Homo sapiens: one gene and its partner. The protein of the gene in region 1 interacts with the protein of each later gene in a biochemical or structural test. Each region holds a gene or a part of one and is shown on either strand. Other genes may lie near its edges.

Region 1 (7,027 bases):
GTTTAAAAACACTTCCTCGGCTGGGCGCGGTGGCTCCTGCCTGTAATCCCAGCACTCTGGGAGGCTGAGGCGGGCGGATCACGAGGTCAGGAGTTTGAGACCAGCCTGACCAACATGGTGAAACCCTGTCTCTACTAAAAATACCAAAATTAGCCGGGTGTGGTGGCGTGCACCTGTAATCCCAGCTACTCAGGAGGCTGAGGCAGGAGAATTGCTTGAACCCGGGAGGCAGAGGTTGCAGTGAGCCAAGTCACGTCACTGCATTCCAGCCTGGGCCACAGAAATTTGTTTCATGACTGTGTTTTCCATTACACAGGGATGCCTTTCTTGTTCACCTGGCTTACTGGTAAATGCATATTATGCATTCAATGAATGTCCAATTAATTGAACTGAAAAAAAATCTCATGAATGGATAATAAAGAGACACGCAAATCACAAGGTTACAGAAAACTGAAATTTGGCCTTGGGATCGGCCTATGTTACTAAAACCACTTTGTCCCTGCCTCATAGTAAGATGGTAATCTAGTTGTCTTTAAGAGTCACAAAAAAAAAAAAACAAAACAAAACAGCTACTTACTAACATTTTCCCGAGTATAAGCTATAATCTTAAGAAAGTTACAGAGCAATAAAAAAATCACCAATGGTTTCATGATATAAATTTGTTAGTTCTTTCTAGTGTTTCCTTAACTACAATGCCTTCAATCCCTAGAACTGTAAAGACTTTCAAAATATAAATTCATTTGCCCAAAATTAACCAAACTGACAGAGACATAATGTGAAGGTATTGAAAACTAAAAAAAAAATTGAAAATCTAAAGACAACATAGCCAGTTGTTTTAATGCAAAATATGTCAACCTTAGATTCTGAAACCAGTATCTAAAATTACTTTAAATTACAGTAGAATCCTAATTATTCAGAAGCATCTCAGTTACTGGCCAATTCAAAACCAAAAATGTCTGTGCCTAAGTACTCAAGAAATTTTAGAATAGCTTCATTCAGGTTTTTTTTTTTTTTTGAGACGGAGTCTTGCTCTGTTGCCCAGGCTGGAGTGCAGTGGGGTGATCTCCGCTCACTGCAAGCTCTGCTGCTCCCGGGTTCACACCATTCTCCTGCCTCAGCCTCCCGACTAGCTGGGACTACAGGCACCCACCACCACGCCCAGCTAATTTTTTTGTATTTTTAGTAGAGACGGGGTTTCACCATGTTAGCCAGGATGGTCTCGATCTCCTGACCTTGTGATCCTCCTGCCTCGGCCTCCCAAAGTGCTGGGATTACAGGCGTGAGCCACCGCGCCTGGCCAGGATTTTTAAAAAATATAAAATGCCCCCAATGGTGTCATGTAGCCCTTGAAAGAATGAATAATAATGAAGTATTTCTGTTGATTCTGAGGGCTCTTAACCAATTATCCAGTTCTTCCAACCACACAGTCATGTTTCTGCCACAAAAGACCCTAGGGCCATCAATCACTTCACTTGGGAAGAAATTTTAAAAGCTGCTAAGATTTTAGCTGAAGTTAAAAGATTCCCTATTATTTAATTGCCTAATTGGTATATCCACATTCATTCCTTCATATATTACATTTGCAAAGAAAATTTCAACTCTAATGAAACAACAGTCCAACTCGTTTTTCGCATACACACATAAGAATTCTTTTCCTTGATATAATATTATTACATAAACTATGCCTCTCATATTTATTTTGTTTTTAGAAAGCAGCACTGTATAAGATACGAATTTGGCACCTAAATCAGAACTCTGATTACTATAATTGTAATGTCAAAAGCCCCTGCTGGATGCTGCTGTCCTCATTTCCTTGTTTCTAGTATTTATTTCTATAGCACATATGCATCCATAGTTCATTATAACAGAAAACATAATGTGTGTTCAGAATCCATACAACTTGAATCTGTAGCATATTTTCTTCTTAAATCCATTTACACAGGTAAACTATCCTATAAGGTATAGGGAAAAAAGAAGAAGAACCGAATTGTACATCAGGAATCTGGTCATCCAACTTCTTTGGCCTACAAATTCCTCACCAGAGAAAGAAAAGGATAGAACAGATGTTCTCTAATGTGTAAAACTCTGGTGGCTCACTCCCGTAGTCCCAGCACTTTAGGAGGCCGAGGTGGGTGGATCACGAGGTCAGGAGATTGAAACCATCCTGGCCAACATGGTGAAACCCGTCTCTACTAAAAATAAAAAAAAATTAGCTGGGTGTGGTGGCGCGTGCCTGTAATTCCAGCTACTCGGGAGGCTGAGGCAGGAGAATCGCTTGAACCTGGGAGGTGGAGATTGCAGTTAGCCGAGTTCGTGCCACTGCACTCCAGCCTGGCGACAGAGCGAGACTCCGTCTCAACAAAAAAAAACTCTGGTTTTAAGAGTGGTCATTAACACGTGTGGAAAAAATTCCAAACTTGAGCAAAGCAAATGCATAACATTTCCAGTCACAGTCATTTAGCACAGTGAATACTAAAGTACTTGATAATTTGACAAAACTTAATTTCACTTGTGCAGGAGTTGATCAATCTGGACTAAAGGAACTGCTTGACACAGAGGAGCTTAAAAAAGAATACTGAACTGACTGCTATTTTTAACTTACTTTCAGTTATGCTCACATTTCATAATCAAAACATTAGATAGTATATTAAAACAGTATCTTTAGAGCCTGAAAGTTTAATCACTATCAAAAGCAGTTCAAGGATTCTTAACATGGAGCACATGGAGACCTAGGGAATCCACAAATAAACTTGGCAAGAATCTGAATCCCCAGAAGTCATACGTTAAAAAAAATAGCTTTTTTTCCTAGGAAGAGGTCAGAAAATTCTTAAGTGAGACAACTGAAAGAACTAAAGAACCACTGTTCCTAGTCAAATTTTTTACAAGTTTTTTCTTAAATTCCAAAGGTGATTTTAATTACAACTTATAACAAATCTGTCTTCATCATAATGAGTTTGTATTTATTTATTTATTTATTTATTTATTTAAGAGACAGGGTCTTGCCTCTATTACCCAGGCTGGGGTGCAGTGGTGCCACTAATAGCTCACTGCAGCCCCGGCCTCCTGGATTCAAGGGATCTTCCTGCCTCAGTCTTCTGTTAGGATTACTGCATGAACCACCATACCTGGCTAAGTTTCCCTGCCCCCACCTGGAGGTACATATATTTCTGAAACATCATGGTAACTTTTCCATGCCTTTTTTTAATTGGAAGAAAACATTATCAGACAAGTATTTTCAGAGCTTAAAACAACAGATAGGACAGGCGCGGTGACTCACACCTGTAGTTCCAGCACTTTGGGAGGCCGAGGTGGGCAGATCACCAAAGGTCAGGAGTTCGAGACCAGCCTGACCAACATGGTGAAACCCTGCCTCTACTAAAAATACAAAAATCAGCTGGGCGTGGTGGCATACACCTGTAATCCCAGCTACTAGGGAGGCTGAGGCAGGAGAATTGCTTGAACCCAGGGGGCAGAGGTTGCAGTTAGCCGAGATCACGCCATTGCACTCCAGCCTGGGCAACAAAAGCAAAACTTCATCTCAAAATAAGAAAAAAAAAATGTTCAAGGCAGAGAGTAAAGCTACTCCAGTGGCTGAGGCAGGAGAACTGCTTGAACCTGGGAGGCAGAGGTTGTAGTAAGCCGAGATTGTGCCATTGCACTCCAGGCTGGGCAACAAAGCAAGACTCCCGTCTCAAATAAATAAAAGGTGAGTTTTCTAAATCACTTTTCTTACAAAAAAAAATACCTTATGCACTAGAATACCTATCAAATGAGTGGCTTTTAAACAGTAACAGGAAAAAATGTGTGTACTTCAAAAAATCCTATTAAAAAAGTAAACTCAAGTCTCAATGTAAAATCAGACTGTATCTGATTTTTAAGAATTTGAGGCTAAATCACACCAAATAGAAGAGTAAATTTTTCCACTGCACTTCAGCCTGGGTGACAGAGACCCTGTTTCAAAAAATTAATTAAATGTATTTTCTTAAGTAAATTTTTAAGCACCATAGACAAGGGACCAGTGGGGAAGGGAGACATAAAGTAAATTCTGCGAAAGACTGGTAAAATTCTAATTCCAGCAGGTTGACTCACTAGGTTTTAATCAAATAAGTCAACCCCTAGGGTAAGTTAACTACTTTTTCCCAAGACTGTATTTTATCATTTTCATTATTATCATTATTACTATTTTGAGACAGGGTTTCACTCTGTCGCCCAGGCTGGAGTGCAGTGGCGCGATCTAGGCTCACTGCAGCCTCAACTTCCTGGGCCAAACCAATCCTCCCACCTGTCTCCTGAGTAGCTGGGACTACAGATGTGTGCCACAACACCTGGCTAATTTTCATTTTATCTTTTTGTAGAGACAAGGTCTCATTATGTTGTACAGCCCAGTCTTGAAACCTTGGGCTCAGGGGATCCTCCCGCCTCAGCCTCCCAAAGTACTGAGATTATAGGCATGAGCCACAGTGCTCAGCCCTCATGATTAATTCTGAAAAGACCATTAAAGGAATGTCAGTCACTGTATCAACGTAACATGTAAAGCTGAAACAGATTTGGTTTTGACCAAGGCCATAACTATAGATCTCACTTATCGGTTCCCGAAAGTGATTCTCCTTTATGACAGGATTATGCAGAACCTCTCATTTGAGGGACATTTTAGGTACCTCCTAACCTTTATGACTTTAAGCTTTAACTGCTCACTTTTTTTTTTTTGGTGGAGATGGAGATCTCACTATGTTCCTCAGGCTGGTCTCAACTCCTGGCTTCAAGCAATCCTTGGGCCTCAGTCTCCCAAAGAGCTGTTATTACAGGTGTGAACCACCATGCCCAGCTTCAGTCACTTTTATTGGCTAAAAGAGCTTTGGTCCAGAAGATAAGGCAGAAAAACGAAACTAAAGATTCTAGCTTAAAACAGAACTACTAAGACTCAATATCACTCACACTTGTGCAAAATGCCATACATACAAAACTTCGTTACAGCATTTTTTATATAGCACAATTTAGGAAACATTCTGAAAGTTATGAATAAGCAATTAGTTACAATAAAGTCTAGGCCAGGCACGGTGGTTCATGCCTGTTAACCCTAGCACTTTGGGAGGCCGAGGTGGAAGAATCACTTGAGCCTAGGAGCTCGAGAACAGCCTAGGCAACATGGCAAGACCCCATCTCTACTGAAAAAGTATTAAATTTCCAATATTTGAAAAAATAAAATAAAGTCTAACCATAAGGTTCCATTAAACAGCCCTTTGAGAAAAAAAAAAGAGCCAAAGCAGAACACTATGATGCATGTCTGTAATCCCAGATACTGGAGGCTGAAGGTAGAGATCACCTGATATTAGGAATTCGAGGCTGTATGTATATAGTGTACTATGATCACGCCTGTGAAAAGCCACTGCACTCCAGCCTGGGCAACAAAGCAGCAGTCTGTCTCTTAAAAAAAAAAAAAAGTCAACTTGAAGATACATAGGTGGTTAGAGGGGAAGAGAAGGGAATCAAGGTATTTGCATGAGAAGGAGAAGACGCCTAACTTATAGCAGAAAGTTGCTCTGGTCTTCTTGTAAGGATACACAATAAAAATAGTGGTTGAAGTCGGGTGCAGTGGCTCACACCTGTAATCCTAGCACTTTGGGAGGCTGAGGCAGGTGGATCACTTGAGAAGAGGAGTTTGAGACCAGCATGGCCAACATGGTGAAACCCCATCTCTACTAAAAATTAGCCAGGTGTGGTGGCACATGCCTGCAGTCTCAGCTACTTAAGAGACTGAGGCAGGAGAATCACTTGAACCTGGGAGGTGGAGTTTGCAGTGAGCCAAAATTGCACCACTGCACTCCAGCCTGGGCAACAGGGGGAGACTCCGTCTCAACAAACAAACAAACAAACAAAAACAGTGGTTTTCTAAGCAGGGGAACTGGAATGCTGAAGGACAGATGAGGGATTCTCTACGTATCCTTCAGAGCCTTTCAAATGTGCTCTATGTGTGCATTTCCTAGTTAATAAAAAAAGATACATAAGCAGAGTAGGCACACAAAAAAGAAATAATGTAAAAGATTGATGTCCTTTTTAAGTGAGCTTATGGGTGGAAAACGAGACTAGCTTTAACTTTTAGCTCAGACATTGGTTCAGACAGAATATACCAAGGAGTAACAATGTCAAATTATTGCTCATTGAGATTAAGGCTCATCTATTCAGTTAGTCTATTAATATTTCAGTATCTACTATGTGCCAAGGATTGGTCTAGGCACGAATGAGCAATGCCCGGGATATCCAAGAGTCCCTAACTTCATGAAGGTTTAATGGGGAATAGAGAGAAATAAACAGTAAATAACATAACTTCGAACAGTAATAAGCACTTATACAGAAGAAAGGGAGATAGGAGGATAAAATTGTGGGGGAGGAAAAAGGGAAACTGGTTTATACGGGACAGGTTAGGTAGAGGGTATGACATATGAGCTAAGAACGGAACAACTGGACAAAGCAAGCAATGCAACAAACTGGAGGAAAGTCCTGTGACTGGAATAAGCTCAACCACTTATTGTTCAGGGTACAGCAAAGCAACAGTGTGGCTACAGTGGAGTGACCCAGAGAGAGAAGTGCAGATGCGCTCAGAAGTAGGCATCCCAAATGAATGCAGGGCCTTATAGCTAAGGGGTGGGGGGGAAGGCAAGATTCTAATGTAAGTGTGATGGAGAACCTCTACAGTTTTTAGCAGGGGAGTAACATGGTCTATATTTTAAGAAGATAACACTAGCTGCTGCTCCAAAGTAGGCTAATACAGGAGGCCAGGCAGTAAATGATGGAAGTGAACAGAGGTTTGAAAGACAGGGGGGAAAGTGTCTGATTTAGTACATATATTGAAAGCAGAACCTACAGAATTTGCTACTGGATTAGATACAGGAATCTAAATGAGATAGCAACTGGGTGAATAGTAGTCCAGAAAATCATCTTGTATTTGTAGTTAGTCATTTTACAGTAACAAGAGACAGGGGAATGTTACACTAATCAAGATCCAAATTCTGCCTCTTACCAGCTTTAC
Region 2 (7,027 bases), on another chromosome or scaffold:
CACGCCCTGCTAATTTTGTATTTTTAGTAGAGATGGAGTTTCCCCATGTTGCCCAGGATGGTCTCGATCTCTTGACCTCGTGATGTGGCCACCTCAGCCTCCCAAAGTGCTGGGATTACAGGCGTGAGACACCATACCCAGCCCTGATTTTTTTTTTTTTTTTAACTGCAAATGTGTAGTCATGAAGAACATAGTGATTACTAATGCAGTTTGGCCACTGTCTTGATTTGTGCTACAGGGCCATTAGTTTAATGCACCACTGTTTTTTGCACCATCAGTGCAAATGTCAACTGGTGTTCACATCAGTTACATAGAAAATGAGAACTTGGTAATATTCTGAAATAGTTTCAACCTGGTAGACCTCCTGAACACTTGGAAGAGCTACCTCAAGAGTCAACAGACCACACTCTGAGAACCACTACTCTGGATGCACATATAAAATACAGGAGGAAAGAGATACATCTTCAGAGAAAAGACTTGGGTCATAGGAAGATAAGAATGGCAAGGAGCCTTGTTTTTTTTCCCTGTACATTCTTTGTACCTTATAAATTTGGTACACTTTGTATATATTACTTTTCTCTGAAAAAATTAACTTAAAAAAAGACACTTAAACTGACATGAAAACTAAGTAAAAATTAAGCATATTAGTAGAAATATAAGTACACAAGTAAATACAAACAAATATAAGCATACTACTTATAAATATAAAGGTATAGACTACAGAAATAATTTTTGAGAGCTAAAATGTTTCTGTTTAAGCAGTACAACTAGGAGATTAGGAGAGTTGCATAGGAAACCACTGTTTTTCATTGTAAGTCTTTTGAAACTGACTTTTAAAACCGTGTACAGATATTAATTGGTTGAAAATTTAAAATATTCAAAATATTACTTTGAAAAAACACACATTAAGTTAGATTGAATAAGTAAATAAAGCAAATATCCATACACAGGTGAGAAACTGGCTATGAAATATACCAAGATGTAACAGTAACTGCCTGGGTAAAAAAAAAAAAAAAAAAAAAAAAAAAAAGAAAGTACTGATGAGTTTTCAATCACATACAAAAATTCTGTTTCATAATTTTTTAATTTTTTTTTTCTTGAGATGGAGTCTTGCTCTACTGCCCAGGCTGGAGTACAGTGGCATGATCTCGGCTCACTGCAACCTCCACCTCCCAGGTTCAAGCGATTCTCCTGCTCCAGCCACCCAAGTAGCTGGGATTACAGGCATGCACCACCCCACTTGGCTACTTTTTTTTTTTTGCATTTTTCAGTTGAGACAGGGTTTCATCAGGTTGGCCAGGATGATCTTGAACTCCTGGCCTCAAGGGATCCATATGCCTCGGCCTCCCGAAGTGCTGGGATTATAGGTATGAGCTACCGCACCCAGCCCAATTTTTTGAACTCATTTTAAAGTTTCTTAAAAAGCAACAGTTTTCTTCAGATTAGAATGTTTGATGACTTAGTTAAAAATAGTTAAAAGTATAAACTTCAGGTTTTTAATAAACAGTTAAGTGGCTAAACATACACACACAATTTTTTCTCATTTCATATGATCACAATTAAGAACATAACTCATTATGTATTTGAAAAAGAAAAGAAGAAAAAAATTGCTTTATGACAATAAGTTGCTGAGTCTTACGTGATTACTTCATAAAATCTTCAAAGAAATATAAACCTACTATCAAAAATCTAATTTAAATTTAGTTTCCTAGCGATGTCCTGATGCATGAAAAAAAGATTATTCCTGTATATAAATAACACAACAGCAAATTGGATTGCTCACTAAAAGGAACCAGGGTTCCATGGAAAACGGCTCATTCCAAGACTGACAAAGGAAAGAAATAAGATGTGCTTGCAACATCTTGCTGTGCCAGAAAGACAGGAAATACTTAAAAAAAAAAAAAAAAAAAAAAAAGGCCGGGGCACGGCATCTCATGCCTGTAATCCCAGCACTTTGGGAGGCTGAGGCAGGTGGATCACGAGGTCACAAGGTCAGGAGTTCAAGACCAGCCTGTCCAAGATGGTGAAACCCCGTCTCTACTAAAAATACAAAAATTAGCCGGGCATGGTGGCAGGCGCCTATAATCCCAGCTATTTGGGAGGCTGAGGCAGAGAATTGCTTGAACCCGGGAGGCAGAGGTTGCAGTGAGCCAAGATCGCGCCACTGCACTCCAGCCTGGGAGACAAGAGTGAGACTCCGTCAAAAAAAAAAAACAAGAGGTTATGTTAAAAAGACACAGGAGCCCACTTGGAAAGGCTCCTAATGGACAAATCTGGGACAATTTGAACATCAAAATAAAGGTTATAATGGGTTATTTAACCCACTGAATAAAACAGGAAACACACAATTCTGTATTAATCAGATAAAAGAATGTCTCTTCCTTATAAAAGAATGTCCATTAGTGAAGAAAATGGATGAGTTACAAAATAAACACTTTCCAACCATTAGAGTAAAGATCAGTAAAGATCAGCATAGGCAAGAAACATCAATGGATGCTACATGGGCCTTGGGGGATGTGGGGAGTGATGAGGAACAGGATGATCTGATGAGGAGCAGAGTAGCTGCACTATCTCAAAGTTATCCCCACAGATTGCTTATTAGGTGCACTGTTCCACATTACAGGAGACTAAAGAGATATGACAACTAAATGCATTTTGTGATCCTGAACTGGGTCCTATGAGGAAAATGCTGTAAAGGGATAAATGCTATTATCAGGACAATTCGACAAAACTGGAAAATGAGCTGTAGATTAATATTATCAAAGTTTAATTTTCTGAATTTTGTAACTGGTGCAGTGATAACGCAAAAGAATACAATACACAGTGAATATTTAGAAACAAATGGGCATAATGCAATGTAATGGGCATAATGTAAGCAATTTACTTTTAAATGATTCAAGAGAGAATAAGGGGCCAGGCGCAAAGGCTCACCCCAGCACTTTGGGAGGCTGAAGTAGGCTGATCACTTAAAGTCATGGGTTTGAGACCAGCCTGGCCAAGAGGGTGAAACCTCGTCTCTAACTAAAATACAAAAATTAGCTGGACGTGGTGGCGGGCACCTATAATCTCAGCTACTCAGGAGGCTGAGGTAGGAGAATCGCTTGAACCTGGGAGATGGAGGTTACAGTGAGCCGAGATCACACTGCTGCACTCCAGCCTGGGCAACACAGCGAGACTCCACCTCAAAAAAAAAAAAAAAAAAAAAAGAGAGAGAAAATAAGAAAGCAAGAGTGACAACATTAAAAATTGGTGAATCTGAATAATGAGTATTCAAGAGTTCTCAGTACTATTTTTTAAATCTTTCGGTAAGTTTGAAATTATGTCAAAATAAAAATGTAAGTAGCCAGGCGTGGTGGCTCACGCCTGTAATCCCAGCACTTTGGGAGGCCAAGGCGGGAGGATTACTTGAGGTCAGGAGTTCGAGACCAGCCTGGCCAACATAGCGAAACCCCATCTCTACCAAAAATATAAAAAATAACCTGAGCGTGGTAGCGTGCACCTCTAATCCCAGCTACCTGGGAGGGTGAGTCAGGAAAATCACTTGAAGCTGGAAGGTGGAGGTGACAATGAGCCAAGATGGGGCCACTGCACTCCAGCCTGGGCCACAGAGTGAGACTCCATTAAAAAAAAAAAAAAAAAAAAAAAATTTAAGTAACAACAAATTGGGATGTCAAAAGATAGTAAAATAAGTAATTTATTCGAGTGCCCTATAGTACATATGAATAAGGGAAATGACTACAACATTGATTCAGACTTGACACCTAGCCATATATAGAATTTCTTAAATTTTCTATTTGGTAGAAAAGGAAAAATATTTTTTAAGAATCCAATCACATACAAACTAAACTAAGATGCTAATCGTGTATGCCCTCAGGAAAACACAAAAATCTTCTCCATGTTAACACAATCCACACTGCCAAACTCTCCTTTCCACCAGCAAGCCATAAGCCCCTTCAGGCAGGTGTTAAGAGCCTGCCCTTTGTTTTAACTCAAGCACTGGCACAGTGCCTGAAATACAACACTCCTGTTTGTTGAATAAATACTGAACATTTACAAATAGAAACGAAATACTGTATTTTTATCAAAATGAAAAGAAGCGTGGAAGGGAACAGACACTTAAATATGGTACTTTCACAAATTTTGAGATGGAGTCTCACTCTGTTACTCAGGTTGGAGTGCAGTGGTGCAATCTCAGCTCACTGCAACCTCCACCTCCTGGGTTCAAGCAATTCTCCTGTCTCAGCCTCCCAAGCAGCTGGGATTACAGGCACCCACCACCACGCCCAGCTAATTTTTGTATTTACAGTTATATTTTTTTTATTTTTGTGTTTTTAGTAGAGACAAGGTTTCACCATGTTGGCCAGGCTGGTCTCGAACTCCTGATGTCAGGTGATCCACTCGCCTTGGCCTCCCAAAGTTCTGGGATTACAGGTGTGAGCCACTATACCTGGCCACTTTTACTAATTATTTTAAAACATTTTTATTTACAATTGAACATTTTCTTTTTTTTGAGATGGAATCTTGCTCTGTCACCCAGACTGAAGGGCAGTGGCGCAATCTTGGCTCACTGCAACCTCTGCCTCCTGGGTTCAAGTCATTCTCCTGCCTCAACCTCCCAAGTAGCTGGGATTACAAGCACCCGCCACCATGCCCGGCTACTTTTTGTATTTTTTAGTAGAGACAGGGTTTTGCCACGTTGGGCAGGCTGGTCTCAAACTCCTGACCTCAGGTGATCCGCCTGCCTCAGCCTCCCAAAGTGCTAGGATTACTACAGGTGTGCACCACCATGTCCAGCCTAAACATGAATGAACGTTTTCAAAAATATATTATTTTATTTTATTTCATTTACTTATTTATTTTGAGATAGGGTCTGGCTTTGTCACCGAGGCTGGAATGCAGTGGCACAATCTCGGCTCATTGCAACCTCTGCCTCCCGGGCTCAAGCCATCCTCTCACCTCAGCCTCCCGAGTAGCTGGGACTACAGGCATGTGCCATTATGCCTGTCTAATTTTTGTATTTTTTTGGTACAGCCAGAATTTCGTCACATTGCCCAGCCTAGTCTCAAACTCCTGGGCTCAAGCAATCCACCTTCCTCAGCCTCCCAAGGTGCTATGATTACAGGCATGAGCCACTGGGCCCAGCCAAAAAAATATATTTTAAAATATGAACAATTTTCAAACCTCACAAAAGCAGAGAACAATATTATTAATACCCATGTACCCATCACCCCAACCCAACAATTATCCAGATTGTGCCAGACCTGCTTCATCTATCTTATCTCCCTCCACCACATTTTTTGGTTTTTATCTGGTATCTGTTTAAAATAACAGACATTGCTGGGCACGGTGGCCCACGTCTGTAATCCCAGCACTTTGGGAGGCCGAGACGGGCGAATCACCTGAGATCACGAGTTCAAGACCAGCCTGGCTAACATGGTGAAAAACCGTTTCTACTAAAAATACAAAAAGTTAGCAGGCGTGGTGGCGCGCTCCTGTAATCCCAGCTACTCAGGAGACTGACGCAGAAGAATTGCTTGAACCCGGGAGGTGGAGGCTTCAGTGAGCTGAGATCACACCACTGCACTCCAGCTTGGGCAACGAGGGAAACTCCATCTCAAAATAAAATAAAATAAAATAAAATACCAGACATTTGCAAGTTTTCTCCCTCATTCCTCAGTCTCTATCACTAATAAAAAGTGGTCATTTTCTTACATAAACATAATGCCATTATCATCCCTAACAAAGTTACAATAACTCCTTGATATCATCTAATACCCATCCATATTCAGATTTCCCCCAATGTTTCAAAAATGACTTTCTACAATTGGTTTGAGTCAGGGTTTAAACAACACCAACATATTGTATTTGGTTACTACACATAAAATAATTTTAATCTGTCTACATCATCTGACAGCAAATATGAAAAGCTTAACAGACAAACCAAATAATTAATTTACATTTGTAGATTCTCTAGAATCAAACCTCACCTAATGCATTTGCCGCCCCTGCTATCTGTAGCAGTCTTCCTCCAAATCGTCACTATGGCTGATTTTTTCTAGTCATTGAAGTCACAGGTCAAATTACCACCTCTAAAAAGGCCCTCCCTAACCACTCAATCTACAGTAAAACCACTTCCATCCATGCCGTATCACATGGTCCTATTTTCCTCATGGCACTTACCACTACCTGAAACCATTCTGTTTATTATGTTCCCACACACAGAACAGAATGTCAGCTCCATGAAGGCAGAGTGCCTTCACTGAAGACCAGTGACTGTGCCTAGAACATGAGACATTCAATAAATGTATCTACGTAATAATGCAGTACCGCTCTTTAAAATGTAAGCTCAGCTAAGTATTTGGAGGCTTTTTTGTTGTTTTGTTTTTTTTCAAGATGGAGTCTTGCTCTGTCACCCAGGCTGGAGTGCAGATCTCAGCTCAGTGGAACCTCCACCTCCCGGGTTCAAGCAATTCTGCCTTACCCTCTTGAGCAGCCAGGATTACAGGCGCATGCCACCACCATGCCCAGCTAATTTTTGTATTTTTTTTTTAGTACAGACGGGGTTTCACCATGTTGGCCTGGCTGCTCTCGAACCCGACCTCATGATCTACCCGCCTCGGCTTCCCAAAGTGCTGGGATTACAGGTATGAGCAAGCGCACCCAGCCTCAGCTAAGTATTTGTCTTTAAATATTTGTAATTCACTCCTCATGTAATGATATAAATTGAGTACCTGTAGAAACCTGGGCCAGCTGTTACCAAGAATCTGTAGGATGTAGGAAAGAAACAAACAGAGGTATAAGACATTCAAATGTAATTGTGGACTTTTACTGAACAATAATTACAGGTTTCTGAAAGAAAAACAAATTATTCCAGATGATTTTTAAAATGTTACCAGGAGTAATAAAAAATTTCATTTTTAGTACCATCTGAAAGCTATTAAAGCTTCAGTAATTAATATCTACAATGGGACAACAATAGCAATAATATGTGGAACAACAATCATAGTTTTTTTGTTTGTTTGTTTTG

Evidence for each region. The genes of interacting proteins can lie anywhere in the genome.
Region 2: the proteins of UBE2N (region 1) and RNF111 form a complex in vitro, tested with the Homo sapiens proteins (4 studies listed by BioGRID).

Annotation. Positions count from the first base shown.
Region 1 is NC_000012.12:93,431,934-93,438,960, forward strand, and holds part of UBE2N (ubiquitin-conjugating enzyme E2 N), read right to left. Parts: intron 1-7,027. UniProt on the Homo sapiens protein: The UBE2V1-UBE2N and UBE2V2-UBE2N heterodimers catalyze the synthesis of non-canonical 'Lys-63'-linked polyubiquitin chains. This type of polyubiquitination does not lead to protein degradation by the proteasome.
Region 2 is NC_000015.10:58,990,653-58,997,679, reverse strand, and holds part of RNF111 (E3 ubiquitin-protein ligase Arkadia), read right to left. Parts: intron 6,765-7,027; exon of another isoform or gene 6,732-6,764; intron 1-6,731. UniProt on the Homo sapiens protein: E3 ubiquitin-protein ligase. Required for mesoderm patterning during embryonic development. Acts as an enhancer of the transcriptional responses of the SMAD2/SMAD3 effectors, which are activated downstream of BMP.